3 separate regions of the Homo sapiens genome follow, and regions 1 and 3 are each linked to region 2. Evidence: fine-mapped expression QTL. A gene starts in region 2. Each other region holds a variant in brackets. All regions are shown on one strand. Distances are between the middles of the regions. Region 1 holds the start of FAM237B (family with sequence similarity 237 member B). Region 2 holds the start of GTPBP10 (GTP binding protein 10). Region 3 overlaps STEAP2-AS1 (STEAP2 antisense RNA 1).

The links. PIP is the estimated chance that this variant, and not a neighbour inherited with it, causes the effect.
Region 1: its variant is the best candidate, but not a certain one, in a credible set for the expression of GTPBP10 in left ventricle (GTEx, PIP 0.75).
Region 3: its variant is the best candidate, but not a certain one, in a credible set for the expression of GTPBP10 in spleen (GTEx, PIP 0.73).

What each region holds. Positions count from the first base shown.
Region 1 is chr7:90,316,019-90,326,226 of GRCh38, forward strand. FAM237B (family with sequence similarity 237 member B) reads right to left here and starts at 5,286. Exons shown (of 3, transcript NM_001384237.2): 1 at 4,904-5,286; 2 at 4,663-4,709; 3 at 789-3,733. The coding sequence starts at 3,730. The coding sequence ends at 3,311. It also overlaps a transcript of CFAP69 not described here. The variant C/A (reference allele first, on the strand shown) is at 5,699.
Region 2 is chr7:90,343,343-90,353,197 of GRCh38, forward strand. GTPBP10 (GTP binding protein 10) reads left to right here and starts at 3,374. Exons shown (of 10, transcript NM_033107.4): 1 at 3,374-3,432; 2 at 9,474-9,667. The coding sequence starts at 3,400. All of the region lies in intron 1 of LOC107986715 (a long non-coding RNA gene), which reads right to left. LOC101927446 (a long non-coding RNA gene) reads left to right here. Exons shown (of 6, transcript NR_110085.1): 6 at 1-752. RefSeq lists enhancers at 2,840-2,979, 3,190-3,619.
Region 3 is chr7:90,133,891-90,144,098 of GRCh38, forward strand. The region is part of intron 2 of STEAP2-AS1 (STEAP2 antisense RNA 1); the gene reads right to left. Among named protein-coding and RNA genes, the nearest start is that of STEAP1, 15 kb to the right of the region's middle. The variant C/G (reference allele first, on the strand shown) is at 4,077.

The DNA.
Region 1 (10,208 bases), 27 kb before region 2:
GGGAGGCGGAGGCTGCAGTGAGCCAAGATCACGCCATTGCACTCCAGCCTGAGCAACAAGAGCGAAACTCCGTCTCAAAAAAAGAAAAAATAAAGATTCGATAGAAACAGCAGAGGAACTTTAGACATAGATAATTATTATCCCTTGTATCATCTTATGAAGAAATATTTGTGGGGTCAATATTAGATCCTTTGCCACCTTTTTTCTCCTCAGCCTTAAGCTCTCTGAAAAATAATCGGTTATGAGCTAAGCCAAATGAGCTCAGCATAAACCCAAAGCTGTGAAACTGAATCTTTACCATGGTACCACTGCAAGAATTGGTGGTTTGTTTTTTAAAATGATCTCTAGACTGTCAAATGATTTTGAATAGGACAAAAGAGAAATACATATTGTCCCAATTCAGCTTCATTTTGACCACCTTCTTTTTTATCTTCTATTTTGATATCATAAAATTGCTTTTGAATTAGATCTTTCAGTCTATCCCTGCATTGTCCCACTTCAGTGTCAACTCTGTGAGTCAAAGATTACGTCTGGATTGTTCACTAATATACCCTAAAGCTTAATGAATATTTGTTGAATGAATGAATGATGAACAGAAAGAAAAAGTTTTTTTATATGCAGATGACACTATTTGTGCCAAAAACGGGGAGGAATTTACGGTATGTAATCATCATCAAAAAGCTTAAGATGAGTTGTTTTAAAACCAGATTGCCCAGTTTAGCAAATGTTCTTATTTTTAACCCAATGTAGTATGTAAATTCAATTAAAAGAACTAGAAAACCATTTTGCCATTAACTGGAAGACTAATTTTATTGATTTAAGCTAAAATGTTTATCATCGCTGCAATAAAATTGTCATGACAACTATGAGTGATTGAGGACAACTGGTTGAACAATTTTTTAGACTAAAAGTACATGGTCTCACTTTACAGCATTGAACTTTTGAGCTTCAATCATTTGCCCACAGACTGTAAAAGAGAACTGTTTTTTTTGAGGAAAACTGTAATACTGCCTCTAGGTACCACTTCGGCTCCTCTGCAGGAAATGAATTCTAGGTGGATAGCTGTCAGGTCATTTTTTTTTTTTTAGACCAAAAGCAGTTTAATGATAAAGAACACAGATGTTCAATATGGAGATGAGAAAGGACAGGAAAGTTCTTGGCAAGATTAACTCAACTTTTTACTCCTGTCACATAAATGTGACTCCTCTCAAATGAATCATCACTTTTCGATTAGAGCTAAACAGTAATAAAGTGTCAATATGAAAATATGTTGAAATTTAAAAACTCATATCAGACTAATTATTTGTCATATAAATTCCACAAATCAAAAGCTTAATGGACATAAAATCACTCATGTTTACACGCTGTCTGGTCATTTTTATGAGAACATTAATTAGCCCTACCCTCCAACCAGTTGATTTTCTGAGCTTAGGGATCCACCCTTAATTGGCAAGATAAGAAGTTTTCAATCTAGGAAATTATTAGCCCTACAATCTTATATTATCTGCTACTCATGCAAAATTGGTTATATGAAATAATATTGCCGAACGCTATGAGGTCCTTTAATATTGAAAATTCCTAACCTGGGGTTTATGCAGCCCCCTGAAATTACATGCAAAATGTAATTTTAAGAGTGTTTATATATAAAACCCCTAATAAATGGTCTATACATCATCAGAATTTGAAAGTGGTCAATAATGCAAAGAACGTCCCTCCTTTAATTCAGCTTATTCTTGGATCAAGTCAAACCATCAGGCAGTTCGTTACTTGTTCAGTATTATTTTAGCCGATTTTAAAACTTTTTATATTTGAGTTTGAGTGTACTGGAATCAGACTGTAAAGGAGAGAATCTGTCATTGTAAGGATACTTGAAACCAGTGTTGTAAACCATGGTAGCCACTGTGAAAACCTATGGGTGAGATTTTCATTGATTCTTTGTCCTGGAAAAGGCTGGACCTCTGTTGAACATATGGTTTGGTTTTTCTTATAAGCATGTGAATCTTGAAACTGTTCATGTGTCCCTCTTCACTAGGAGAAGTGGGAAACAGACCAAATTTATAGGCACCCTTTATCAAAGGTATAGGCTTTTACGACATGCATTCAAAAAGTATTAATCTAAACCGTAACTCCATTGTATTACTTCCCTGTCTTCATGTCCCAATGTTCCAATTTCCTCCACTACTTCATGTTTTCCTTTTCTTCGGTATATTTCTTTAAAGCTTCACATCCTTTTTGAAATAAGATGTGAGATATAAATAGGCAATATAAAAAATAACTCAGCTAACACAAAAATTCTATCAAATTGTACTTTACTGAAATGAAGTTTCTGTCTTTGTTTATTGTTCCTTTTTCAAAACAAAGACAATAAAAATGAGAACATAAAAAGGTTTTAGTCCTTAATGCATAGAAAAATACTTTAATATAGAAGATGGCTTGGTAATGAAATGTACATTTCAGAAACCACAAAATATACTACATTAAATATTACTTTTTAGGATAATACTGCCATTAGTTTTGGCACAGTTTAATAGTCAATATTAATATATAAGATACCTTATAAAATTGGTTACAATTTTATTCCATTGACTATTGTATCTAAAAAATATATCACATTTGCCTTTTAACTGATGTTTTCTTTAAAACAAAGACACTTTAAAAAGACACCTTCTAAGTAAAAAATTGAGAAATTATCTGAAAATATTGGAATAATTCAATAGCAATAAAGCAATTACAACAAAAAACAACGTTTATCAGTATTAAATAATTTGTATAACTATGACAAGAAATATTTGACCTCATAAATACAAGTTTTCAGGTCGCTGTCATCTTGCTTGAGGTATTTTACATGTTTTCTCTTAAATGTAATACTCTCATTTTGTAAAATCTAGTCCTGTAAGATTTAAAAGAAGAAATTGTTAATATTCATTCCAATATGACTCTTAAATTTCCTGCTTTTATACAACCCTATTGAAAAAATTAATTTCAAAAGCCTAAATACATGTCTGATGTTTAAAATTTCTTCAACAAATGTAATATGAATAATTACAGGGTTAAATGGCTTTCTTATGAACTATTCATGGGCAAACAAGGATAATTTTAATTATCTACCAAAGTGTATTATATTCCAAGATCATTTAAAATTGTAAGTCAGAGCTTGTGTGGTTTGTAAATAATGTAAAATGAGTAAAAATGAGAATCAAAACCTATCATTTTAGGGAAAAAAACTAAATATGGTAAATTTGCTACCTTGTTGGATAACTTGAAAAAAATCAGAAGAATTAAATAGTGACTTTTAAAGAAAAGTAAACTGCTATTCTCTTAAATACACATTTAAATTACCTCCTGTTATTTTCTGTGGAAAATTATATTTGGGGGGCATCACCTGTCTTCTGCCCATTCCATGAGATCTTGAAAGCAAGCAGTCTACATACATGTCCCAGAAATCCTGAGCTATGTTTAAGAAGACATTATAATGTCCAGGCCGCTGAGATTTTTGCAAGAACAACATGAAATTCCAAAAAGCATCCACATTGTGCTCTATCTTGAGTTCCTTGAGATCTATCAATGTCAAAGAGCAAGCTTTCCAGCACTGGAGATCAATGTCTTTGGTGATTCCTGGGCTGATGCTGGCAAGCACTCCTTTTTGAAACTCAAAGTCAGCATTAACCAGATTGATCAGCATCATGCAGCCCAAATGTAGATAGAACCATCTTCTTGTAGCAAAACACATATTCTATACAGAAAAAAAAATGAGAGAGGATATATTTAACTTAAAAAAGTTATTCAATCACTTGATCTAAAAAACTGTAAGTACACATATATTTGCTTTTGATCAAGCCAAATCTGCTTACTAGGTATTCATTTTTTCTAAATTACTGATTATCACATCTTCCTTTAGGATATTACAGTTCCGGTTTGATTTCCAACGTTCTGATCAAGAGTCTTTGAAATGCAACACATTTATGAAAATGCAAAGGTTCATTTCATCACAGACCTTTAAAAGTGGCAGAAACCCTAAAGAGCTTATGCTCCAACCTTCTCCCTTTACTGATTAGATCATTAGTGATACGGTTCCGCAAGTCTTCAGACTCCTGACTGCCTATCCAAGACTCCTACCTACCACAACACATTTCAACTAAGTGGATCAAAATACAGTCCTTTCTACATGTAACATAGGAAGTATTTTGTTGTTGTTAATTGAGATATTATTAACCCAAATGGTACTAGATCTCACAAACACCGTTTAAGTCTCAAAGTTACTGCTATTTCCATTTTCATGTATTGAAAAATACTTGTTACGCACTAATATCCGGTGTATTCTTGGCTTCCCTCTGTTTAGGAGCTGGTTGGAGAAGATGAACGTAGACATACATGAAGTGGCACGAAAACAAAGGTGATATAAGGTAGGATGAGATAGTGCAGGGCCCATTACATTCAGCAAAATCTTGACATTTTTCTAATGCCTCTTTGCATGCCTCCTTGCCAACTGATTGTTGGGTAAAATCGGCCCAAAGCACATAAGAGGAAGTTAAAGACTAAGTTGGCATTGAATTGCCACACACCTGCTATTCAAGGCTGCTGTTGGAAATGTCCCTTTTACAACATTGACAGCCAACGGGGAGGGATAGGGAGAGGAGAACAGATCCAGAACACAGGACTCACCTTTCCCCCCGTACACAGCCGTCTGCCACCTCCCTAAAAAAGTTGGGCTGAAGAGAGAAATCATACGAATCAAATCTAAACAGGACATTCAAGTCATTTCACATCGTCGAAAATTGTGCAAATTCCCCAGACTGAGCTGAAAGCTGGCAGTTTATGATACATGATGTATCAGAGGGAATTTCTTCCCCCTCAATTTCAGGCTAGCGCCTCTCCCTGTGCCCCCAGCCCTGGGTCAGGTCACCTGGGCGCAGAAGAGGGAGGCCACGCGGGAGTCGAGGACCTCTGGTCGCCGTCCGAGGAGCGCGTCCCGGCGCGGTGTCCTGGGTGCGCTACGCTCGTTGGGAGGAGGACGGGGCGCCTCCTGCCCACGAGGAACCAGAGGTTTCAGCGGGGACGACCCCTGCCCAGGGCGCCCTCTGCCCAGCGGACCCACTTCCCGAGGCAGGCGAACTGGGCGAGGCAGCGCTGTGTCACCCACCCCGAGCGCTCACCGGGCGCCCAAGCTCGCTCAGCGGAACCGTCTCGGCCGCGGTGCGCTTCGGCGCTGGGAGGCTCTGGCTGGCACTGGCTCACCGCGGGTGGAGCTGCCGGTTCTGCTGCGGCCACGCGGGGTTCCCGAGACAGACCCGCCGCTGGGACCGCGATCCTTTTCTAGAGGCTGAGTGAGGGGGCAGATCGTGGGTGGCCGCGCTCTCGAGGCCCCTCCCTGACCTCGCCCAACTTCCCAGCCTCCAGACCTCGGGGGCCTCTGCGCCCTGCGGCCCTGCTTTGGCCGCTGCTCTCGCCTCTCCTGCCCTCCTCCGACTTTCTTGCTATGCCAAAGGCTCAGGGTCTTCTTCGCTCTCTCCTTCTTACTTTGTTCCTTCTTTTTTCTTAGCTGAGAAGATCCATCTCGGCATTAGTCAGTCCACATACCCAAGTTATCTTCTCCCTCCGCCCACCCATGCTCCACACCGTATTCTCCTATCCAGAGAAAAATTCTCTTAAGGCTGTGAACTCTCTTAAAATGCTAAACCTCCTTGAACGGTTCTAATCT[C/A]TAGCTAAACACAGTTTATTATTAACGCTAACACATACACACGCGCAAACATACCCTTGCTTCTACACTGGGGGAAATGTTTCCTTTATCCCTTCATGGATGAAGACCCGAGCAAGTACCTTGAATTTCACATATGTATGTTGTCCATCAATCTCAGCCCCAACACATCACTTGGACTATATATGAGTTTAAGTCTACCTGCTCTGCCTATAGCCCAGCAGCGATGATCAGATGGGGCTAGGGAAATCAAAGCCAGCTGCCTTATCCCCATTTCCCCTCAGGCAGGCCACCCTTCTCACAGGTTCTTGAGCTGGGATGGTGAGATCATGGGGTGAGATGAGTGCCAAACCAAACAGCCCAGTTCCCCAGTCATTGTCCCTGCTAAAGCTCACTTCTCCCAGCACCCACCATTATTCAAAGCTCCACCCTGTTCTCATCCTGTTGGTGGAGCTAACGTAGTCAATCATTAGTTCTGCCCTGGCAATGCCTTTTTATGCCCCTTCTATCTGCAGGACCACCTCCTGCACAAAACAGAACTGAGAAAAGGGGAAGACTTGTTTACTCGGATTAGGTAGGATATACACGAATCCATCTCACACCAGATATTCTTCTGCTGTAGACTTCCAAGTGTTTCAGTCCACCATTAATCATGGACTCTCACAATTAGCAGAGATGCAGAGTGACCTAATCCAACATCCCAGCTGAAACGTGAACAAACCACCCTCCCAAGGAATTTGTCCACCCACCAAAGCTGTTTTCCAATGTGACTTAACCTTGGGCACATGTCCCCACCCCCAAAGGAAGCAACCCCTTCCATCTTTGGGTTAATGTTGGCTTCCTTCTAAAATGAATTGGCTCAATTTCTCTGTTGAGTAACCACATAGTTCCTGTCCGTCTTTTTTGAAAGATATACTTTATTTTTCATAAAACATTTTTATCTGTTTACAAGTATTCAAAACCTATTGAAAAGTTGTAAAATACAGAAAAATGTAAGGAGACAGGTAATAGTTGTCATTAAAATGCATTTTTAAAGAATATTCTAATATTAGAATTAGAGTAATGTACTAAATAGGAGTACATATTTGGGTATGATTATTATAACACACACACAGGAATGGTATTCTGAATAGAGAACTTATATAAATCAATAATAGAAAAATAAGGGTAATTGACAGAAGAGTAGACCTTAATATTCAGTAAACATGAGAAAAAATACTGAAATATTCTAAATTTAGATAGACTTAATAACAAAGCCATTTCAAGGAAATGATATATTGTCTTCCCCAAATGAAGCTTAACAAAAATTAATTTGGTAAAATACAATCTCAGCAATTTTTTGAGAAAATGAACACTTCATATGCTTTTGATGAGACTATCAGCTGGTATAATCACCAAGGAAGAAAACTGGCATTATCTGTTTAATCTGAAAGTGATCTAGAAATTTTACTCTTGGTGTCTACCCCCAAGTCAGTGAGAGAAGATATTCTTTATGTGAGTGATTTTTCTGAAGGGTCTACTTGCTACATTCAAATAGAATCTGGCAAAATGATGACAAACATAATTTTTAAATCATCATTGGGTGATCAAGAAAGTGAAATCTCCAGGGAAAAGGCGGATGGAGGCAAAGCATAAAGAATCAGAATATGGAAAAGAAGAAAGAAGAGAAAGAGAGAAGGAAGAGAGGAAAGTGAGATGTAGATAGTAAGTTTAGGCTTTATTAAAACTGGTATCTACAGTAAAAAGTGAGATATAGATATTGAATTTAGACTTTGCAAAGTTGTTAAATATGTATGGTAAAATTTCTCAGGCAATTCCTAAATGACGGAAATAGAGAACAAAACTCTTGAACCAGGGAGAAAAACAGATTGACAAATAAAAAATTAATTGAGAAAGCAAGAAGAGAGAAAAAAGCACAGCAAAAGTGACAAGTAGAAAGTAAATTTATAAGATTCAAGTCAACAATCATAATAATAGTCTGAACTTCTTGATTAAAGGAAGGAAGATGTGGTTGGATTTTAAATTCTGCTATGTGCTTTTACAAAAGATACACACACCCAAAATGAGGACAGAGAAACTTGAAAAGAATGGAAACAAATATACCATGCACATGTTAATTGTATTTTAAACTGACAGCTTTATTAATACAAAAAAGCACGATGAAGGAGAAAGGGGAACACTACATAATGATAAAAGACTCAATTCAGGAAGAAGATAAAAATATTCTAAATTTAGATATACCTAATAACGAAGCTACAGAATACATAAAACAAAAACTGACAGAAGTAGAGGGAAATTTTCACAAACTCACTATCATAGTGGGAGAGTTCCACAAGCCTTTAGGTTAAGATGATAAATAATACTAAATGTGTAGATGATTTGAACCGTCAAGTTATAAGGAACCATGAAACTTGCAGTTAAAGAACACATTCCTCCCATTAGAAAATAAAGCAAGTCTCGGGTGCAGCACACCAACATGGCACATGTATACATATGTAACAAACCTGCATGTTGTGCACATGTACCCTAAAACTTAAAGTATAATAATAATAAAATAAAAGAAAAAATAAAGTCTCATGAAATTTAAAGCAAGTCTCAACAAATTTCAAAAACTAGTATCACTCAAACTTCGTTGCCTGACCACAACACAGAAAGTTTAAAAGTCTAAAAAGTGTTTTAAGAAATATAAAAACAAGAACGTAGTTTTTCATGTTTTGAAATTTAAACAATAAATGTACTTATTTATGCAATAACTTTAAACAATCGATTTTAAAATAAAATACAATGGAAATTATAAAATATTTCAAACTGTGTGATTAAAAAACATTGCATATCAAAACTTGTGAGAAGCCAGTAAGAGGATCCTTTAAAGGAAATTAACAGCTTTAAACACTTGTGCCAAAAGAAGAGAGGCTGAAAATCTGATAGAGTGATAAATGCAACCAAATTTAACAGCTGGTAAAATAGCAGAAAAAAGGCTCTCAAAAGTTAAGAGATTTTACAAAAACACACATTAGTGAACTAAGGCAAAAAGAGTTGATTCTTTGAATAAAATAAAGCAACCTCTGATGAGGCTGATCAAGAAAGAAAATGAAAGGTAGAAAATGATATATATCTATAGATAGCAAATAAAGATTAAAACTAGATACACGAATACTAACAACCAACATATACCATATATTTGAAATTTTAAATTAAATTAATAAATTCCTAGAAAAAATATCTATAAAACTTGGCCAGGCGCAGTGGCTCACGCCTATAATCCTAGCACTTTGGGAGGCTGAGGCAGGTGGATCACCTGAGGTCCAAAGTTCGAGACCAGCCTGGTGAACATGGCGAAAACCCATCTCTACTAAAAATACAAAAATTAGCCAGGCATGGTGGCGCGTGCCTGTAATCCCAACTGCCCAGAAGGCTGCGGCAGGAGAATCGGTGGAAACCAGGAGACGGAGGCTGCAGTGAGCCGAGATCGCACCACTGCACTCTAGCCTGGGCGACAAAGAAAGACTATGGAAAATAAAAAGAAAAAAGAAAAAAATCTATAACAGTCATGTAAGAATAACTACAAAGCCAGAATAGTAAATGCTGTTTAAAGACCTTGAATAAGTAGTTTAAAATCTTCCCACTGGGAAAAAAAAAATCAAGCCCATATGATTTTGCAGGGCAACTTTCAAGGATCAAGTACTTCCTGAAAATTAGAAAAGAAGGAAATCTCCCAGACTCATTCTAACAAAATGAGACAAGGACGATCTGAAAAAGAGTAAAGTCACAGGCCATCTTACTAATGATTACAGATAAAAATAAATTCTAAACAAAATATTGACATACCAAATTCAGTAGGACTTAGAAAAAACCCAGCAGTATCAAGCTTGGATTATCCTAGGGATGCACGGGTAGTTTAACACAGGGGGGCCCAGGCCGTAGATTGGTACCAGTCTGTGGTCTGTTAAGGACCCAGCCGTACAGCAGAAGGTGAGCTGTGGGCCAGCAAGCATTATCACCTGAGCTTTGCCTCCTGTCAGATCAGCAGCAGCATTATTCTCATAGGAGCGTGAACCTTAGTGTGAACTGCACATGCAAGGGATATAGGTTGCTGCTCCTTATGAGAATCTAACGCCTGATGATCTGAAGTGAAAAAGTTTCATCCCAAAACATCCCTCCCTGCCCTCCCCACCCACCCCATCTGTGGAAAACTTGTCCTCCACAAAACTGGTCCCCAGTGCCAAAAAGGTTAGGGACTATTGGTTTAACATATTAAAATCAATGACTATATTTACCATGTACACAAATTAAATGGGAGGCTGGGCACGGTGGCTCATGCCTGTAATCCTAGCACTTTGGGAGGCCAAGGAGGGCAAATTGCTTGAGTTCACGAGTTCGAGACCAGCCTGGGCAACATGGCAAAAACCTGTCTCTACAAAAAAATACAAAAATTAGCCAGGCACAGTGGCACACGCCTATAGTCCCAGCTACTTGAGAGGCTGAAGAGGGAGAATCACTTGAGTCCAGAAGG
Region 2 (9,855 bases):
TTGTTTGATCCATTTAACTTCATCATTTGGGAGATATAATGGTTCTCAGACTTGTAATATTTTGACGGCATGAAACAAATAATATTTGATTTGTTACATCTGAAGGATTATAAGGCTAATGAGTAAGAATAACTCGATGCTCCACTTCAGGTGATTCGTATGCTATAGGAGTTAGCAATCTAGTTCTTGTCTTTCGTTTGAATAAATTAACAAATATTCCTAGAGTATCTACTGATTACAAGGCCTGAGCCAGACGGACCTTGTTAGGGACTCTTGAACAAGCAGAACTAAAAGCATGATAGACAAAAGGTAGAAATCTAATTAAAAGCAGTTGAGATGATGACACAAGATCAATTGAAATAATCTGCAAAGCCCAGAATGAAGTTAGACACTTTTCATTTTAGTCTGCTGACAAAATTAAGCAATATAACATCACAAAATATTAGATTTGTTAATTATATATTTGTCTATTTTATGCTTAAGTGTATCTACATTAAATGTTAGATTAAATGCAATGTGGTGTTAGTATTAGACCCTGGAGTAAAGTCATAGGTGAAAAACCAGTGAAAGCAAATAGTCTGTAGTTTAGTTAATATTCTAGCAATATTAATTTTTTTAGTTTTGAAAAATGGTTATAAAAGATGTTAACATTCGGGCAAACTGGATAAAGATTACATGGAATCTCTTTTGGCTATTTTTGTAACTTCTGTAAATTAAAAAGTACTTCAAAATAAAATTATTTAAAATTGTAATTAGAACAACTCTATATTAAATTTTTTCATAACCCTCATTATTGTGTGTGTGTGTGTATATATGTATATATGTATATATGTGTATATATGTATATATGTATATATGTGTATATATGTATATATGTATATATGTGTATATATGCATATATATGTATATATGTGTATATATGTATATATGTATATATGTATATGTATGTATATATGTATGTGTGTATATATATGGTTTTGTTTTGTTTTTTTTTTTTTTTTTTTTGAGACAGAGTCTCTCTCTGTCGCCCAGGCTGAAGTGTAGTGGCGCTATCTCGGCTCACTGCAAGCTCCGCCTCCCAGGTTCACGCCATTCTCCTGCCTCAGCCTCCTGAGTAGCTGGGACTACAGGCGCCCACTATCACGCCCGGCTAATTTTTTGTATTTTTAGTAGAGACGAGGTTTCACCGTGTTAGCCAGGATGGTCTCCATCTCCTGACCTCGTGATCCACCCGCCTCGGCCTCCCAAAATGCTGGGATTACAGGCGTGAGCCACTGCGCCTGGCCTGTTTTAAAATATTTTTAAAACCAAATTGTGAGTCATGTCGATGGCTTATTTGGGACTTTATTCAAGACTCTTTAGTGCCACTGACTTTAATGGTTTGCCCATACATCAAACTGAGCAACCCTAAGGAGGCATTCTTTCCTCTTCATGGCAGAAGTAGTAGTATTTTCCAACAATGACTTCTGCCTTAGGTCTGAATAGTGTCCTAAACATTTTGCCTCATGTTCATTTTAGCTGCACATTTTAAAGGGGACAGTTTCCAGTTACACAATGTTTCTTTTACTATCTGGTAATGAGAGTTATAATAAATACTTCAGGCCCTGACCACATTTTGTCAGAGGTAAATATTATGCTTTCTTTTTTGTTTACAGTACACAATGATCCTCATCATTTTGAGATATTTCTATATCAATCTCCCATTTTTTTTTTTTTAGTTGCTGTGATCATTTCCCCATGTATATGTTATGTGAAAGAAAAGTATTTGAGATTGTGTTCACTAACAAGAAATAGGCATTGGAAAATAAGTACATTGGGCTCAACACTATTCTGACACAATAGGAAAACCTAGTAAGATAGTAATCTTAATGGCAGCAAATGTCATTAAATTAAAAACATCTACACAGCAACAACCTAATGTTCATATTAATGAGAGGTAGGAACACTGATAGTAATCAACATCTGTTGCTGGTGTTAATATTCAACATTAAAGTAATCCACAGAGGGAAAATACAACTACTGCAGGTTAAATGACAACTACAGCTTTTCTGATTGGTGGTTGTAAGCAGAAGGTCCAGTAGCAGCAAAGTAATCAAGACGGGGTTTTCACATCATGTCTTTCCAAATAATCACTGTCCTAAGTGAGGAGTAGAAGACACTGTCACATTGAGGTATTAGTCAGTTTTCACAGTGCCATAAAGAACTGCGCAGACTGGGTAATTTATAAAGGAAAGAGGCTTAATTGATTCACAGTTCTACATGGCTGGGGAGGCCTTAGAAAACTTATAATCATGGCAAAAGGGGAAGCGGAAACAAGCACCTTCTTCACATGGCAAGCAGGAGAGAGAAGAAAGAAGGAGGAACTTCCAAACACTTATAAAACCGTCAGCTCTTGTGGGAACTCCCTATCAGGAGAGCGGCAGGAGAGAAACAGCCCTGCATGATCCAATCACTTCCCTACTTCCACAATGGGGATTACAAATGAAGATGAGATTTGGGTGGCGACACAGAGCCATATCGTATCAAAGTATGAAAGGTTTCTAGGATTTATTAGTTTGGGTTGTTAAGAGTTATACGGCTGGCAACGCTGTGCAGGGCCGTTTACTTCAGCTGCATACATTTTTTCGCTGCATGAGGGGTTGGGGAGAGCTACTCTCTTCTGGTCCTGAAAAGTAATCAAGAGAGAGAGGGATTTTTCACATCGTGTCTTAATTCTCACAAAGGCACGCTTCAAATGACGGATAAAAACCCGTCTTCCCGACTCCAAGAAGCTACTTTCTGACAGTTGTAAACAAGCTTCTTTCTCTTACTGCACAGGAGAGTCCTCTTACAGATCTCAGATCCTGACATTATTTTCAATAAAACTTTGTGCGGCCGCTAGTTTTAAATTCATGGTCTCCTGGAAGCTTTGGCTGGAGACTACTCAGCTCGTCACTGAACTAACGGCTTTTGGGGGTTCTTTTTTCCCAGTTGAGTTTCTGTGTCTTTTACACGTTTGGTTTTATGGTCCGTTGGAGGTTTTTTCACGCTGAGGGTGAAGATTCTTAGTTTCCTCAATTAGCATAAAAGCTGCTCCAAGGCTGCTGAGTCTTCAGTTCCATTCCATTCAAAATGTTAATTCCTGAGACACGCAACCTACGCCCTACTGTCCTTTGTCCCACGGCTTCTCGAGATTATCTCTGTGTTTTAATAGATAAAACGCCTTCTCTCCCCACCCGTGGGGTGCAAAGCACAGCGCATGGGGCTGGTGGCGCCCGAGAGCATCACACAACGCATGCGCCAGTCCGCAGGTGTGGGCGGAGGAGAAATCGCGTCGGCGGCAGGGGATGACGTAAAAAGGCCGCGCTGTACTGCGGCTTGTGCCGCTTCCGCAAGAAGGTTTCCTGGCCTGTTGCAGCCATGGTGCATTGCAGTTGCGTGTTGTTCAGAAAGGTCCGTGCGGGTCCCCTCAGCCTGGTCCCCTTAGCGCTGACAGCTCTGGTTCTTCTTTGCTCCCCTGTCTCTCCACTACTGTCTTCGTGGCGGCCTTTTCCTTGCTTGGTTTTCCCATAGACTTCTCCGCCCCTCCTGTAGTGGCGCTTTGTCAGTAAGCGGTGACAGTGGTGTGTGTACCTGGCGTGGTTTGGACGGTTGTTTGGGGGCAGGGGCAGGGTTTGAAGTTCTTTAGAGACATAGTGTGCACGTGGTATGAGGAACTGGGATACCTGCCTGCTGTGGCCCAAATGTTGTGGTGGTTTTTTTTCCTTTAATGTCCACAGCCTGTTTTTATATATTTCTCCTTGAGTGCGCTGTTTAAGGTTTTTCTAATGGATTTTTATGAAGACACGAAAGCGTGTAATTGATGTGCCTTCCTGCAGAACATTTAGGTCGATTTTTGTGTGGTGTCGGTCTTAAGAATCGTTTCCGTAAAAATTTACAACTGCTTTGAATTTTTATTTTTTAAATCTTATCCTATCAGTAATGCTTTTTGAAACGTTGCCTGCGTCATATTTGGCCATTACTTTATTTCTAACGACCAGAGTAAAATACTCCTTTTAAGTAAGGCTCCTAAACCCCTGAATCTGATTAATCTAGAGCAGGAAAAAAGTGTTACATATTTAATGGAACTGTAGAAACTCTCCTCGAGTATATCAGAATGGTCAATATTTCAACTTTCTTGAAAAAAAAATCCCATTTGTTTTTTATAATAGCTATCCTAAATGACTAGAGATGTGGATTATGAATTTAAGAAATTACTCCTTAAGTTATTTTGATTTTAATAGCCTAAGAGGTTAATACGTAAGTCCTTTACCTACAAGAAGTTCTTGATTTAGTGAAGGAAACAGGTAAACACTAAATGCAGCGTGAGATTTATAAAGGTGTAATAATAGAGATATAATCAAATTGCTGGGAGAGCCAGCAAAGTCAGAGAATTGATTAGAGGAATTTGGAAAGACGTTAGAAAATATGACGTTTAGGTGGATTTATGATAGGAAAAACAAATGACATTCTAAGTAGAGGAAAAGCATGAGCAGAATGGCATGTAGAAATGGCGGTATTTCATGTAGTACAGAGCAAAGAGGAAGAGAGGAAGGGTTGAGCAAGTGAAAAGGATACAGGAAGGAACTAGGCATGGTAGGTGAGCCTATTGTTCTTGCTACTTGGGAGGCTGAGGTGGGAGGATCCCTTAAGGCCAGGAGTTCAAGACCAGTCTGGGCAACATAGCAAGACCCCATCTTTAAAACAGTCGGGGTGGTGTGGTGCCTGTAGTCCCAGCCATTTGGGAGGCTGAAGTGGGAGAATTGCTTGAGCCCAGGAGTTTGAGGCTGCAGCAATGATAGTGCTATGATAGTGCCACGGCACTCGAGCCCAGGCACCAGAACCAGACCCTGTTTCAAAAAAAAGAAAATAAAAGATACCAGAAGGGTATTTTAGTAGCTTTGGATATACAGTTGACCCTTCAAGAACATGGGGGTTAGAGATGCCCCCGCCACAGCTGAAAATCTTCATGTAACTTTCAACTCCCCCCACAAAACAACTACTAATAATCTGTTGGCTGGAAGCCTCACTGATAACATAAGCCGTCAGTTGACACATATAAAATATATATATAGTATATACTGTATTCTTAAATTAAGCTAGAGAAAAGAAACAGTTACTAAGAAAGTCAGAAAGAAGGGAAAATATATTTACTGTTCATTAAATGGAAGTGAATTGTAAAGGTCTTCATCCTTATAGTCTTCATGTTGAATAGACTGAGGAGGAAGAGGAGGAGTTGGTCTTGCTCTCTTGGGTGGCAGAGGCAGAAGGGGTGGGGGTGGAGGAGGTGGAAGGGGAGGCAAGAGAGGCAGACACACTATGTGTAACTTTATGGAAGTACATCATAATTTCTGTCATGCTTTTGCTTTTCTCTTTCCCCCAAAAAAATGTTTCTATAGGGTACCAATACCTCTTCCACCATTTGCTTTGGTTTCAGTGCCTCTTCACAGAAGGGTCCATGTCATAAAAGAAGTCAAAAGCAGTCCTGAACAATAGGAGCTCTTCTGCCAGATTATCTAATGTTCGTTTTTCTGGTAGTTTATTCTGTGTTTTCTTCCTTGTTATCTGGCACTGGATCTGAAGCACTCATCAAGCTGTCTTCTGTTAATTCCTCTGGTTTGGTGGCTGTTAGCTCTTGAGTTTCTTCAAGATCCATATCTTGAAGTCCTTTACCCACTTTCCCGCCGTTTTTGGCATATTCACAGCCTCTTTCATGATTTCCTTGATTGGCTCTTTTGTAAATCCTGTGAAATTATAACACAACACAACACCTGGACAAAGTTTTCTCCAGCACGAACTTACTGTTTGGGGCTTATGGCTTTCATGGCTTTTTCAATAATAATGGCATCTTCAATTATGTAAACTTCAGATTTTCCTGAAGTTTTCTCTATTAGTGTTCTTTTCCATGGTTGACAATCCTTTTCGTAGAAAATCATGTTTAATGAGCCTTAAAGGTCCTTGCGACCCCGTGATCTAGAGGCTGATTTACAGACATTGTGTTTGGGGGCAAGGACACCACTTCAGTGCCTTTGATGTTGAACTCATGGGGTTCTGGGTAGCGGGGAGGTGGGGCACTGTCCATTAGCAGAGGAACTTTACAAGTCAGTCTCGTATTGGGAAGGTACTTCCTGACTTCAGGGAGAAAGCATCCATGGAACCAATCCAGAGAAAAGGTTTTTGTTCTCTAGGCCTTCTTATCCAACAAAGACTGGCAGCTGATGTTTATCTTTCCCTTTCAAGATTGAGGGGTTAGCAGCTTTATAGATAAGGACAGTCCTGATTACAAACACAACTGCATTTGCACAATACAGTAGGGTTAGCCTATCCCTTCCTGGCTTAAATCCTGGTGCTCCCTTCTCTTCCTTACTAATGTCTTTTGTAGCATGTTTTCCAGAATAGGGTACTTTCATCAGCATTAACAACCTGATTTGGGAGATATTCTTTCGTCTCAGTGATTTTCTTAATGGCATCTGGGAACTCATCTGCTGCCTCTTAGTTGGCAGAACCTGCTTCACCTGTTATCTTGATATTTCTAAAGCCAAAGCCAAACCTATTTCTTCTTTTTTTTTTTTAAATTATACTTTAAGTTCTAGGGTACATGTACACAGCGTGCAGGTTTGTTACATAGGTATACATGTGCCATGTTGGTTTGCTGCACCCATTAACTTGTCATTTACATTGGGTATTTCTCCTAATGTTATCTCTCACCCAGCCCCCAACCCCATGACAGGTCCCAGTGTGTGATGTTCCCCCCGTGTCCCAAGTGTTCTCATTGTTCAGTTCCCACCTATGAGTGAGAACATGTGGTGTTTGGTTTTCTGTCCTTGTGATAGTTTGGTCAGAATGATGGTTTCCAGCTGCATCCATGTCACTCATCCTTTTTATGGCTGCATAGTATTCCATCGTGTATATGTGCCACATTTTCTTAATCCAGTCTATCATTGATGGACATTTGGGTTGGTTCCAAGTCTTTGCTGTTGTGAATAGTGCCACAATAAACATACGTGTGCATGTGTCTTTATAGTGGCATGATTTTTAATCCTTTGGGTATATATCCAGTAATGGGATGGCTGGGTCAAATGGTATTTCTAGTTCTAGATTCTTGAGGAATCTAGAACTGTCTTCCACAGTCAAACCTCCTTCTAAAATTATCAAATCATCCTTTGCTGGCAATTAATTCTTTAGCTTTAGATCCTTCACATTCCTTTTGCTTTTAAGTTGTCATATGGTAACCTTACTTTTTCTTTTATTGTATTAGTCTATGTTTTTAAAATAGGAATCCTGCATCTACATAAAAGTTGCCTTTTTAATACAAGATAAAAAGTTAATTCACAAAAAGTGCAAGGTTTTCACACCTTTTGGCATAGCTGCTGCAGTGGCTTCATGAATTTTTGTCTTTTTTTACACTGATTCTTATTCTGGATTCATTTATCTTGAGATAGCAGGCCATCGCAGCTACAGATTTTAATCTGTGGTAGATATCAAGCAATTCATCTTTTTATCGTAGTGTCATGACTTTACTTCTTGGGAGCACTGCCAGCATCACTAGTGGCACTTTGTATGGGTTCCATGGTGGTGTTCAAGGTTTACAGTGTAGCGCTGAACATGATGAAAAATGCAAGAGAACTGTGAGAGATTACTTTTTACTGACTTATAAAATGTACTGGCAAGATGAACTGCTCATGGGGAGACGATTAGCATCACATGGCCTTTTAAGTGGCAACTTGGGACACTTGAGATCCCGGGATAGTTACAGGAGGTAACTACGAAATTATTACAGTATTCCACGATGTACTACAGTTAATTTTATGCAGTTATGATTTAATACTGCATTTTTACATTTGCTTACATTTCTCTTGACTGCAAATGCTGCCATGTAAGATCTGTAAGTGTGTGTGTAAGTTTTGATAAATTTTAAGTTTTTATAATAGATGTGTGGCCAGGTGCAGTAGCTCATGCCTGTAATTCCAGCACTTTGGGAGGCCAAGGCAAGAGGATTGTTTGTGGCCAGGAGTTTGAGACCAGCCTGGGCAACATAGCAAAACCCCATCTCTAGTTTTTAAAAATTAAGATAGATATGTGTATATTTTATGGAAGTAAATGACAAAATAGATTAGCATCTATATATTTTTTGCACTCATAACACACAGCTTTTCTTAATTTTTTCAATATTTCCAATCTATTTGCTTTGTAAGTTTTTTCAAATTGTTGCAAAGCTCAAAAAATTTTTCTAATATATTTATTGAAAAATATCTGTATATAAGTGGACACACGCAGCTCAAACCAGTGTTGTTCAAGGGTCAACTGTAGTACTAAGAATTTTTTACTTTATTTCATAAGCATTTTTTTTTTTGAGACGGAGTCTCGCTCTGTCGCCCAGGCTAGAGTGCAGTGGCTTGATCTCGGCCCACTGCAAGCTCTGCCTCCCAGGTTCATGCCATTCTCCTGCCTCAGCCTGCAGAGTAGCTGGGACTACAGGCGCCCGCCACCACGCCTGGCTAGTTTTTTTGTATTTTTAGTAGAGACAGGGTTTCTCCATGTTAGCCAGGATGGTCTCGATCTCCTGAACTCGTGATCCGCCCACCTTGGCCTCCCAGAGTGCTGGGATTACAGGCATGAGCCACTGCACTTGGCTCATAAGCATTTTTTTAATGCATGGTTTTTGAGTAAAGGAGAAACATGATTAGAGATCAGATCAATTTCAGAAAAATAGTTCAGGCAACAAGTTGGAGAATGCAATAAGGAAAAAATGCCTAAACACTGAAAGGAGCTCATGTGGTGCAGGTACTAGGGCAGTGGTACTGGAGAGAAGAGAGTAGGGCTTTGGGAAAAGAAGCAGGTGTAGTCTGAAAGACTTCCATTTGTGTAGTCTCAATGAATATGTAAACCATGGTTCTGTTACTTTAGAGAACATTGGAGGAACAGATTTTACCTGGGGAAGAGTTTGGTTTTGTTATGTTAACATTTATTTTTGAGGTGGCTATTATTCAACTGATATGTAAGAACAAGTTTCATATTGGGGAATTTCAAATATAAGTTAAATACACATTCTGCTCACATTTGCTTTATACTATTAAAAGCTTTCATCCTGGTGGAAATGTCTGACAGATTGGACATAGAAAATATCTCACCTAGGTGATGGTTATTGGTACAAGCAGAAATTACCCAGGGGAGAAAGTCTAGAATGAAAACAGGGCCAAGTCAGAAACCCTCAGGATAGGTGGGACAATAATTGATAACTGAAAAAACTAAAAGGGACTTAAGAGAGATAATCAAATGGGAAAGGGGGTCAGATCGGAGATGTGGAGGTGAGCTAAGAAAATGTTATAGAATTGGCATGTGAAAAGCTATTAACGACTTTTTTAGAAGAAGTTTTAGTGGAAGAAAGAACTAGAAAAAGGTTCTAAGGTGATACACTTTTGGTATACAAATATTCTTTCTCTTTTTTTTTTAAGTATGGAAATTTCATCGATAAGCTAAGACTCTTCACCAGGGGAGGATCCGGTGGAATGGGTTATCCTCGTTTAGGTGGAGAAGGTGGAAAAGGTGGTGATGTCTGGGTTGTAGCCCAGAACAGAATGACTTTAAAACAACTTAAAGACAGGTATCCTCGGAAACGGTTTGTGGCTGGAGTAGGAGCAAACAGCAAGTAAGTAATTACTGAATGACTTAAATTTTAGAAAATCAAACCCTTCTGGAAATTTTTTTTTTAGTTACAAAATAAAAACTTAATTGTTAATTTGAAGTAAATTATTTCCTGTATTTATAACCAAGCAAAAGCCTAAAATGTCTCAACTCATAAAAGACTGATACTAAAGAATATTTCAGAGTTTTAAA
Region 3 (10,208 bases), 210 kb before region 2:
AGTGGTGGTTGGGTAGATGACAGATAGTGGTTGTCTGCCTGCCGCCCATCTAGGTATGCCCCCACGGGTGGCCTCTGCTTTTGCCCACAGGGGACTCATTCACGCACAAAGGAAGGTGACAGACAATTGGCCAGAACATAGAGCACTGAAATGAAACACAAAGGCCACTCTTGGGCCTCTGTGTTTCATCACAATTATATTAGTTTGCTAGGGCGCCATCACCAAGTACCACAGACAGGTGTCGGAGATCAAGGTATCTATCAGCAGGGTTAGTTTCTTCTGGGATCTTTCCTCTTGATTTGCAGATAAGCGTTTTCTCCCTGTGTCTTCACATGATGTTTCCTCTATGCCTGTTGTATCCTAACCTCCTTTTCATATAAATTCACAATTGAGCACATAACTCCTATTTAATACCATATGTTGGAATAAAAAGCCTTATAGCAATGCATAGGATAGAAATTCTTTTCTTTAAAACTTAGAGTATTTTGCAGTAATGAAAAATGGTCCTGACATACAGAATGCCATCTAGCTTACACCTGCATGGGGCATGCACGGCATGAGGCATGAAGAAGAAAGAGATGAGCAATCCTTACCTGAAAAGAGACCACCCTCTCCTTTAATGGGAGGAGAAATTAAAGAATAATTTAATGGGAGGGGAAATTAAAGAAAAATGCCCATAGTTTGCTGCAAACACTATTGCTCAATTTAATACTGTAATGGAATCTACAATGTGTGTACAATCATTGTTAACTATACCTTTATTATCTTTATAATGTTGAGGTAAAGAGCTTTCTGCTATTATGCATTAATAACTCCATCCCTAATGCCATCATGGTTCTAGTGTCCAGGGAAGGAGTCTGTATTAGTCTGTTTTCACACTGATATAAAGAATACCACCAGAGACTGGGTAATTTATAAAGAAAGGAGGTTTAATTGACTCACAGTTCTGCATGGCTGGGGGGGGCCTCAGGAAATTCACAATTATGGTGGAAGACAAGGCACATCTTACATAGCAGCAGGTGAGACAGAGAGAGAGAGAGAGAGAGAGAGAACAAACCAGGAAGTGCCACACTTTAAAACCATCAGCTCTCATGAGAACTCACTCACTATCGTGAGAACAGCATGGGGGAAACCACCTCCATGATCCAATCACTTCCCACCAGGTTCCTCCCTTGACACCTGAGGATTACAATTTGAAATGAGATTTTGGTGGGGACACAGAGACAAACCATATTATTTCACCCCTGGCCCCTCCAAAATTTCATGTCCCTTTCAAGTTTCAAAACCAACCATTCCTTCCCAACAGTCTTAAAGTCTTAACTCATTCCAGTATCAACCTGAAAGTCCAAGTCCAGAGTCTCATCTAAGACAAGGCAAGTTCCTTCTACCTATGAGTCTGTAAAATAAAAAGCAAGTTAGTTACTTCCAAGATACAATAGGGGGCCAGGTGCAGTGGCTCACACCTGTAATCCCAGCACTTTGGGAGGCTAAGGCAGGTGGATCACCTGAGGTCAGGAGTTCAAGACTAGCCTACCCAACATGGTGAAACCCCATCTCTACTAAAGATACAAAAATTAGCTGGGTGTGGTGGCTGGCGCTTATAGTCCCAGCTACTTAGGAGGCTGAGGCAGGAGAACTGCTTGAATGTGGGAGTTAGAGGTTGCAGTGAACCGAGATCGCACCAGTGCACTCCAGCCTGGGTGACAGAGGGAGACTCCATCTCCAAAAGAAAAAAAAAAGATACAGTAGCAATACAGGCATTGGGTAAGTATTCCCATCCAAATAGGAGAAATTGGCCAAAACAAAGGGCCCACAGGCCACATGAAAATCTAAAACCCAGCCGGGCAGTCATTAAATCTTAAAGCTCCAAAATGATCTCCTTTGACTCCATGTCTCACACCCAGGGCATGCTGATGCAAGGCGTGGGTTCCCATGGCCTTGGGCAGCTCCACCCCTGTGGCTTAGCAGGGTACAGCCCCTCCAGCTGCTTTCATGGGATGGCAATGAATGTCTGTGGCTTTTTCAGGTGCAAGGTGCAAGCTGTTGGTGGATCTACCTTTCTGGGGTCTGGAGGATGGTAGCCCTTTTCTCACAGCTCCACAAGGCAGTACCTCAGTGGAGACTCTGTATGGGCACTCCAACCCCACATTTCCCTTCTGCACTGCCTAACAGAGGTTCTCAATAAGGGCTCCACCCCTCTTGCAGACTTCTGCCTGGACATCCAGGCTTTTCCACACATTCTCTGAAATCCAGATGGAGGTTCTGAAAGCTCAACTCTTGTATTCTGAATACTCACAGGCCAAACATCATGTGGAAGCTGCCAAGGTTTTGGGGCTTGCATTCTCTGAAGCAATGGTCTGAGCTGTACCTTGGCCCCTCTTAGCCACAGCTGGAGCTGGAGTGGCTGGGATGCAGGACACCATGTCCCAAGGCTGCACAGAGCAGCAGGGCCCAGGGCCCTGAGGACATTTTCCCTCTTAGGCCTTTGGGCCTGTGATGGGAGGGGCTACTTTGAAGATCTCTGAAAGGCCCTGGAGACATTTCCCCCATTGTCTTGGTGATTAACATTTGGCTCCTTGTTACTTATGCAAATTTCTGCAGCTGGCTTGAATTTCTTCCCAGAAAAATTTCTACCACATAGTCAGGCTGTACATTTTCCAAATCTTTATGCTCTGCTTCCCTTTTAAATATAAGTTCCAATTTCAAACCATCTCTTTGTGAGCGCATGTAACTGAACGCTTTCAGAATCAACCAGATTACCTCTTGAATGCTTTGCTGCTTAGAAATTTCTTCTGCCAGATACCCTAAATCATCTCTCTTAAGTTCAAAGTTCCACAGATCTCCGGAGCAGGTGAAAAATGCTGCCAGTCTCTTTGCTAAAGCATAGTAAGAGTGACCTTTACTCCAGCTCCCAATAGGTTCCTCATTTACATCTGAGACCATCTCAGCCTGGACTTCATTGTCTATATCACTATTAGCATTTTGGTCAAAACAATTCAACAAGTCTCTAGGAAGTTCCAAACTTTCATTTATCCTCTTGTCTTCATCTGAGCCTTCCAAACTGTTCCAACCTCTGCCTGTTATCCAGTTCCAAAGTTGCTTCCACATTCTCAAGTTATCTTTATAGCAGTACCACACTACCTTGGTACCAATTCTCTGTATTAGTCCGTTTTCACACTGCTATGAAGAATACCACCAGAGACTGAGTATTTATAAAGAAAGGAGGTTTAATTGACTCATAGTTCTGCATGGCTGGGGAGGCCTCAGGAAACTTACAATCATGGTAGAAGGTGAAGGGGAAGCAAGGCACATCTTACATGCGGCAGGCAACAGAGAGAGAGAGAGAGACTGCAAGAGAGAGAGAGAGAGAGAGACAGAAAGCAAGAGAGCGAGAGCGAGCATCAGGAAGTACCACACTTTAAAACCATCAGCTCTTGTGACAACTATCATGAGAATAGCATGGGGGAACCACCCCCAAGATCCAATCACCTCCCACCAGGTTCTTCCCTTGGCACCTGAGGATTACAATGCAAGATGAGATTTCAGTGGGGACACAAAGTCAAACCATATCAGAGTCTTCCTCTTAAAATTCATGGAAAGGTCATATCTATCTAATCTCTCTCTGATGCTTCTTTTGGCAGTATCACTAAAGACATTTCCATCCCAGAGAGTAGATGTGGAGGATGTCAGATTCAGAGAGAAAAAATTATTTGTCATTGGTTACAACCACAAAACCATTTACTATAGTTTTAATATTGTGAATATCTGTTCTGATCCCAACAGATCATCAGTCAAGTAGAGAAAAATAGAACAAACTATTTCTAGAGTGTCTAAAGGATTCATTCTATCATTTTAGTAGATGATATACATGACCATCAACATTCAGTCATTTCATGAATAAGACAAGACATTATAATTTACCTTAGAGTGAAGCTGTTCTCATAGAATTTACATTGTGCAATTTTGCTTTTTCACATGAATAAATTAGGGGCTCAGGAAGCAGAAGGACAAATAAGGCAGAGAACAAGCAGGAAAAATAATTGAGGTAGGACCAGTAATCCATGGAGGATCCCCAA[C/G]TTCAGGTGAAAGCATAGAATATATCTGAATGTGAGAGTTGAGCCAAAGATAGACTCATTTATCCATGGACTAATGGATAGTCAAATACTAGTAAAAATAATAATAATAGCCATCATTTACAGGCTTACTCTTTGCTAGACTCTTTATATATTATATAATTTAATCTTTAGGACATCTTAGTAAAACTGTTCTGCAGATGAGAAAATTGGGTCTCAGAGATGTCAAGTGCCTTTCTTAAGGCCCTCCAACTAGACAGGGGCAAAGCTTTTAATTAGATTTGGGCCTGTCTAATCCATTGATACAATCAAACAAAACCACTGTGCCCTGGATGGAAGTCATTAATTTAAGGGCAAGTAGAACTGGACACCTAGAAACTAAGAGATCCAGGAGTTCTCATTGTATATTTGGGACTAGGTGGTAGAGGACATGAAGAACAAGGAATAGCTGGCTGGGAATGAAAGCACTGACCCTCCTGCAAGAGAAAAGTAAGACAGAAACCATGTAGTTGAAGAACCCAGATTCCAAAGGTTATCTCAAGCATTGTTTCAAAAATTGTTGACGAAGCAAATTACTCAGCTCTTCTCATCCAAAACCTTCTCGGCTTGGCGTAGACCTGGAATCCAGGGCAGGACTGAACCTCAGGGATGGGGACCAGTGTCCACCAGTGCACACGGTGGAGAGGGGAAGGGAAGAAAGCCAAAAGGCCATTAATTAAACCCAGGGACTCCTGGCTCCCAGCAGGATCCTATTCTTTCTCTTCCCACAGTAAGAAGCTAGTGGGGAGATACAGACACCAGGTGAATCCCTCAGCTGACTAGTCAGCTGTAGGATAACTGGGAAAGTGAGAGGATCCTGCGTCCTCTTGAGGAAGTGCAGCTTTCTGCTGTCCAGGCTCTGGAGTCCCTGCTAGATTTGCTCACACACAGGACTTGCACTGGGCAGAAGTCTGTGGCACATGCCTTCAAAGCATTCCATTAGCTGGAATTTAAAATTCTCTGACGGAAATCAGAATCCTGTCTGAAGGCAATTTTGCAACAGTGTGAGATGTGCATGAGGCTCCTGAAGGCCATGGAGCTGTTCCAGGCAATTCGATGAATGGAGTGTTCAGCCGGTCAGGGCAGGCACCCAATTTAAAACATGCAGGTGAATAACTGATGGGACCTCTTGCTCAAACATCTCGAATGCATTTTGCCAGGCTCTCCAAGTGTGTAAAAGTCTTGGAAAATAACATGAAATTGCCTTGACTGCACTCATAAAATGGCTGGATGTAAATGTCCTTTAAAAATAAAAATAAAAAAAACTAAAGAGCATTTTTAAGGCTTTTGCTTCACAATAGGATGAAAATGATTTGAGGTGGGAGCACAATGATGTCAGCGAAGTGTGGCTCAGCCACGCTTTTGGTAGTTAATGCAGTCAGAGACACGGAGGAAGTCAGAAAACCTATTCTAAAATGATGTCTTAATGCAAAAAGAAAAAGCAGTGATGTGTAAATAGATACTGAGTTGTGTATTCTATTATGCAGTTGAAGGAAATTGAGATCAGAACTGCCATTCTAAGAAAGAGTTGACACAGATTCTCCATTTCAGTTTCTTTGAGGTGCTTAATAATCTGAGGTTGAATACAAAGACACCTGACTTTCCCGTGCCTTGATTTACCTATCTCTGAAGCAGAGAAGACACAGTGTGGCCACTCCATGATACTCTTGTGTGTAGTGTTTACCTTTCTCAGGCATGAGAAGGCTGCAATTACAAGATGGTTCTCAGAGATATGTGGGGTATTTTTATCATACTTGTTTAAGACGAGAAAAATGTTATCCCTCATTCCAAGAATATGAAATTCAATTTTAAGCAAGTTCACAAATTTAAAAAAAATTATTATGTTCCTTCTATGTGCCAGAATTTGTGCTAGGAACTCAGAAGGCAGAGAACATTCTCTGTCCTTAAGGAACCTCAAGGAGGAGACAGACATATAAACCAGCAATTACACTAAGTATTGCAGATATAGGTGGCAGTACTAGTACATGTTTCCAGAGTGTGAACATAAAAATGGGATACCGGATCAATATGATTTGTGTGAGGTTGAAGCTACCAATATGCAAATGAGTCCCAAGTAGATGCCAGAAAATGCTTACCTAACAAAGCTGTTCCCACCTCTCCCAGTGAAAACAGAAGTCAGCCCACAATGTCTCTAAAATTCCCACTATCCAGCATTCTTAAAAGCCCTCCTAAAGAGGGTAGGATAGGAGATGCGAGTTGTACATGGAATTCAATAATTATTAGATGTTAAATATTACTGAGACCGCCATTGCCGGCCAAGATAAAGTCAGCCCTCTATAGTCTGTCTCTCTCACAGATTACAGCTAAAAATGAATACAGAAAGTAACTATTTAAGGACTCTGAAAAGTAAACACCAGAAGATAGTTTGAAAGTCAAAATTTGAAGAAAAACCAGTATTAGGATGAGAATCCTGAGTTATTTTTGCTTTTGTATCTCACTGCTTTGAAATGAAAATGGCCCTAATTATGGAACTGAGCAGTAGGAGCAGACATCAAAACTCAGAGAAATCTCCTTTGTTGAACCAAACAGATACAGAGACCTCTGTAAGCTGAAAAGTGTAGAATATATTCCAAGGCTTTTTTTTTTTCTGTTTTTCCCCTCTTTTTTCCTCCTATCTCTAAGCGAGGAGTGGCCACAGTCTAGAGCTTCTCTGCAGCAGTTGTGGCATGTGCACCTAAAACACTGAGAAAGCAAACAAACAAACCACTGTCTCTCTGGTCAGAGGATCTTCAAAAGAGTTCCCTATCATCCCAAGTGGATGGGGGAAAATTTTTGTTTTCGTTCTCTTTGTCTCTCCAGTTGTGTGGAACTGCATATCAGGGTGGTCATTATGGAAAATCAATATTCTCTAGAGGATTTTAACAGGACTCAGAGTCTCACAACATAATATCAGATTGTCTAAAATACAATCTGAAACTACTTAACATACAAAGAACCAGGAAAATGTGACCAATAGTCAAGGGAAAAACCACTAACAGGTGCCAACCCACTCCAAAACAGCAAAACTCATTCTTTTCAAGTACCTATAAAGGACACATTCTGAACCATTAAATAAACCTTAACAATTTTAAAATAATTGAAATCATACCAAATATGTTGACAATAATATGTATGACCATACATGGTTAAAGAAAAAAATAAAAAATCAAGGATATCTAGAAAATACCTAAACATTTGGAAGTTAAACAACGCAGTGTAACTGTGTTAAACAACACAGTTCTAAATAACCCATTGGTCAAGTAAGTTTCAAGGGAAATAATAAAATATTTTAAAATAATTAATAATAAAAATACAATTTATAAAAAATTGTGGAAGTGCTTAGAGAGAAGAAAATTATAGTACTAAATGCTCATATTAGAAAAGAAAGTCTCAAATCAATAACTTAAGCTTCCACAGTGAGACATTAGAAAAAAAGAACAAACAGCTGAGCAGGGTGGTTCACCCCTGTAATCCCAGAACTTTGGGAGGCCGAGGCGGGTGGATCACCTGAGGTCAGGAGTTTGAGACCAGCCAGGCCAACATGGTGAAACCCCTTCTCTACTAAAAATACAAAAAATTAGCTGGGTGTGATGGCAGGCACCTGTAATCCCAGCTACTCGGGAGGCTGAGGCAGAAGAATCTATTGAACCCGGGAGGCGGAGATTGCAGTGAGCCAAGATTGTGCTATTGCACTCCAGCTTAGAGGCTAAGAATGAAACTCCATAAAACAAACAAACAACAAAAAAAAAACAAACAAAGATAAAAAGAACAAACTAAACCCAAAGCAAGCAGAGAAAATGAATTAACAAAAATAAAAACAAAAGTCAATGAAAATGAAAGCAGAAAAACAGTAGACAAAGCCAATGAAATATCAATAAAATGCATAAATCTCTAGCTATACTAAGCAAGAAGGAGAGAGAGAGAGAAGACAAAAGCTATCAATATCAGGAATGGAAGAGTGGATATCACTACAGAAAAACAAATGACTGTATTACCACAAATTTGTGTTTAAATCAGGGTTAAATCAGGAATTAAATGGACTAATTCCTTGAAACATACAAACTACCAAAGCTTGGTGAAGAAATTAGATAACTTGATTTGTCTCATATCTATTACAGAAATTGAATTTGTAGTTAAAATACTTCAAAAAAGAAAACTCCACGTCCAGATGGTTTTACTGAGTTATTCTCCCAAACATTTAAGGAAGAAGTAACAAATCTATATAATCTTTTCTCAGAAATAGAAAAGAAGGAAATACTTCACAACCCATTTTATTAGGCTAGAATTAGACCAGCATTAAAACCAGACCAATATCCCTTATGAACATAGGTGAAATAATTCTGAACAAAATTTTAGTGAATCTATTCCAGCAATATTTACAAAGGATAATGTAACATGACTAAGCAGGATTTGTCTTGGGAATGTAAGGCTGGTTCAACATTTGAAAGTCAATCAGTATAATTAACTATATTAATAGGTTAAGAAGGAAAACCATGATTGCTTCAATAGATACAGAAAACGCATTTGAAATTTTCAATATCTATTCATGATACAAATTCTCAGCAAACTAATAATGGAAGGAAATTTTTTTAAAACTGATAAAGCGCATGTAGAAAAAACTGTATAGTTGATTTCACACTTAATGGGAAAAGACTGCTTTCCCCTAAAATAGGAAACAAGAGAAAGACTTTTGCTCTTACCACTTTTTTACAACATTGTTCTGGAAGGCCTAGCCAGTGCAATAAGGCCAGAAAAAGAAATAAAAGGCATTATGTAGAAAATTCCAAGGAATCTCTAAGAAAGCTCTAGAGCTCATAATCATAATTGACTAAAAAGATCAATATATAAAAATTAATTTTGGCCAGGCATGGTGGTTCACACCTATAATCCCATCACTTTGAGAGGCTGAGGCAGGCAGATCACTTGAGGTCAGGAGTTCGAGACCAGTCAGGCTAACATTGTGAAACCCCATCTCTACTAAAAATAGAAAAACTTAGCCAGGTGTGCTGGCACACACCTGTAATCCCAGATACTCGGGAGGCTGAGGCACGAGAATCACTTGAACCCAGGAGGCAAAGGTTGCAGTGAGCCAAGATCATGCCACTGCACTCCAGCCTGGGCAACAGAACAAGACTCTTATCTCAAAAAAAAAAAAAAACAAAAAAAACAAAACAAATGTATTTCTATATACTACCAATAAATAATTTATATTGAAATTTTACATTATGCCATTTATAATAGTGCCATAAAATAAAATATTAAGAGTAAATGTAATATCAGCAGGATCTATATGTTATAAACCCTGATTTAAAAAAAAATCCCAAAGAAAGGCCAAATAAATGGGAAGATATACTGTGTTTATGGGATATTCATAAGATGTCAATTCTCCCCAAATTTATCTATAGGTTCAATGCAATTATAATCAAAATCTCCACAAAATTATTTATATATATTGGCAAGCTGATTCTAAAGTATATAGGGTAAAGCAAAAGAACGAGAATAGCAAAAGAAATTTGAAAAAGAGCAAAGTTGGAAAACTCATACCACTTTATTTCAAGTTAGTGTAATCAAGCGTGATATTGGCAAAAGGTTGAACACCTAAGTCAATCAAATAAAATAAAGCCCAGAAATAGACCTATATAAATATGGTCAACTGAATTTCTAAAAACATACAAAAGGTAAGTCAGTGGAGAAAGGATAGTCTTTTTAACAAAATTAACTCAAAATGAATCATAGAGCTAAGTATAAAATGTAAAACTGTAAACTTTTAAAGGAAAATATAGGAGAAAATTATTACATCCCTAAATTAGGCAAAAATTCTCATATTAACACCAAAACAATACTTTCAAGGAAAAAAATTGGTAAATTAGAATTCATTAAAAATTAAGAATTTGCTTTGCAAATGACATTGTCAAAATAATGCAAAGAAAAGCCACAGACTAGGAAAAAACCATCTGTGAATTACATATATGACAAAAGACTTGTATCCAGAATATAAAAAGATCTCAAAAATGCAACAATAAAAACACAAGGAAATTTTTAAAAGAATCAAAATTTTGAACAGACACTTCAACTAAAATACATATGTATGGCAAG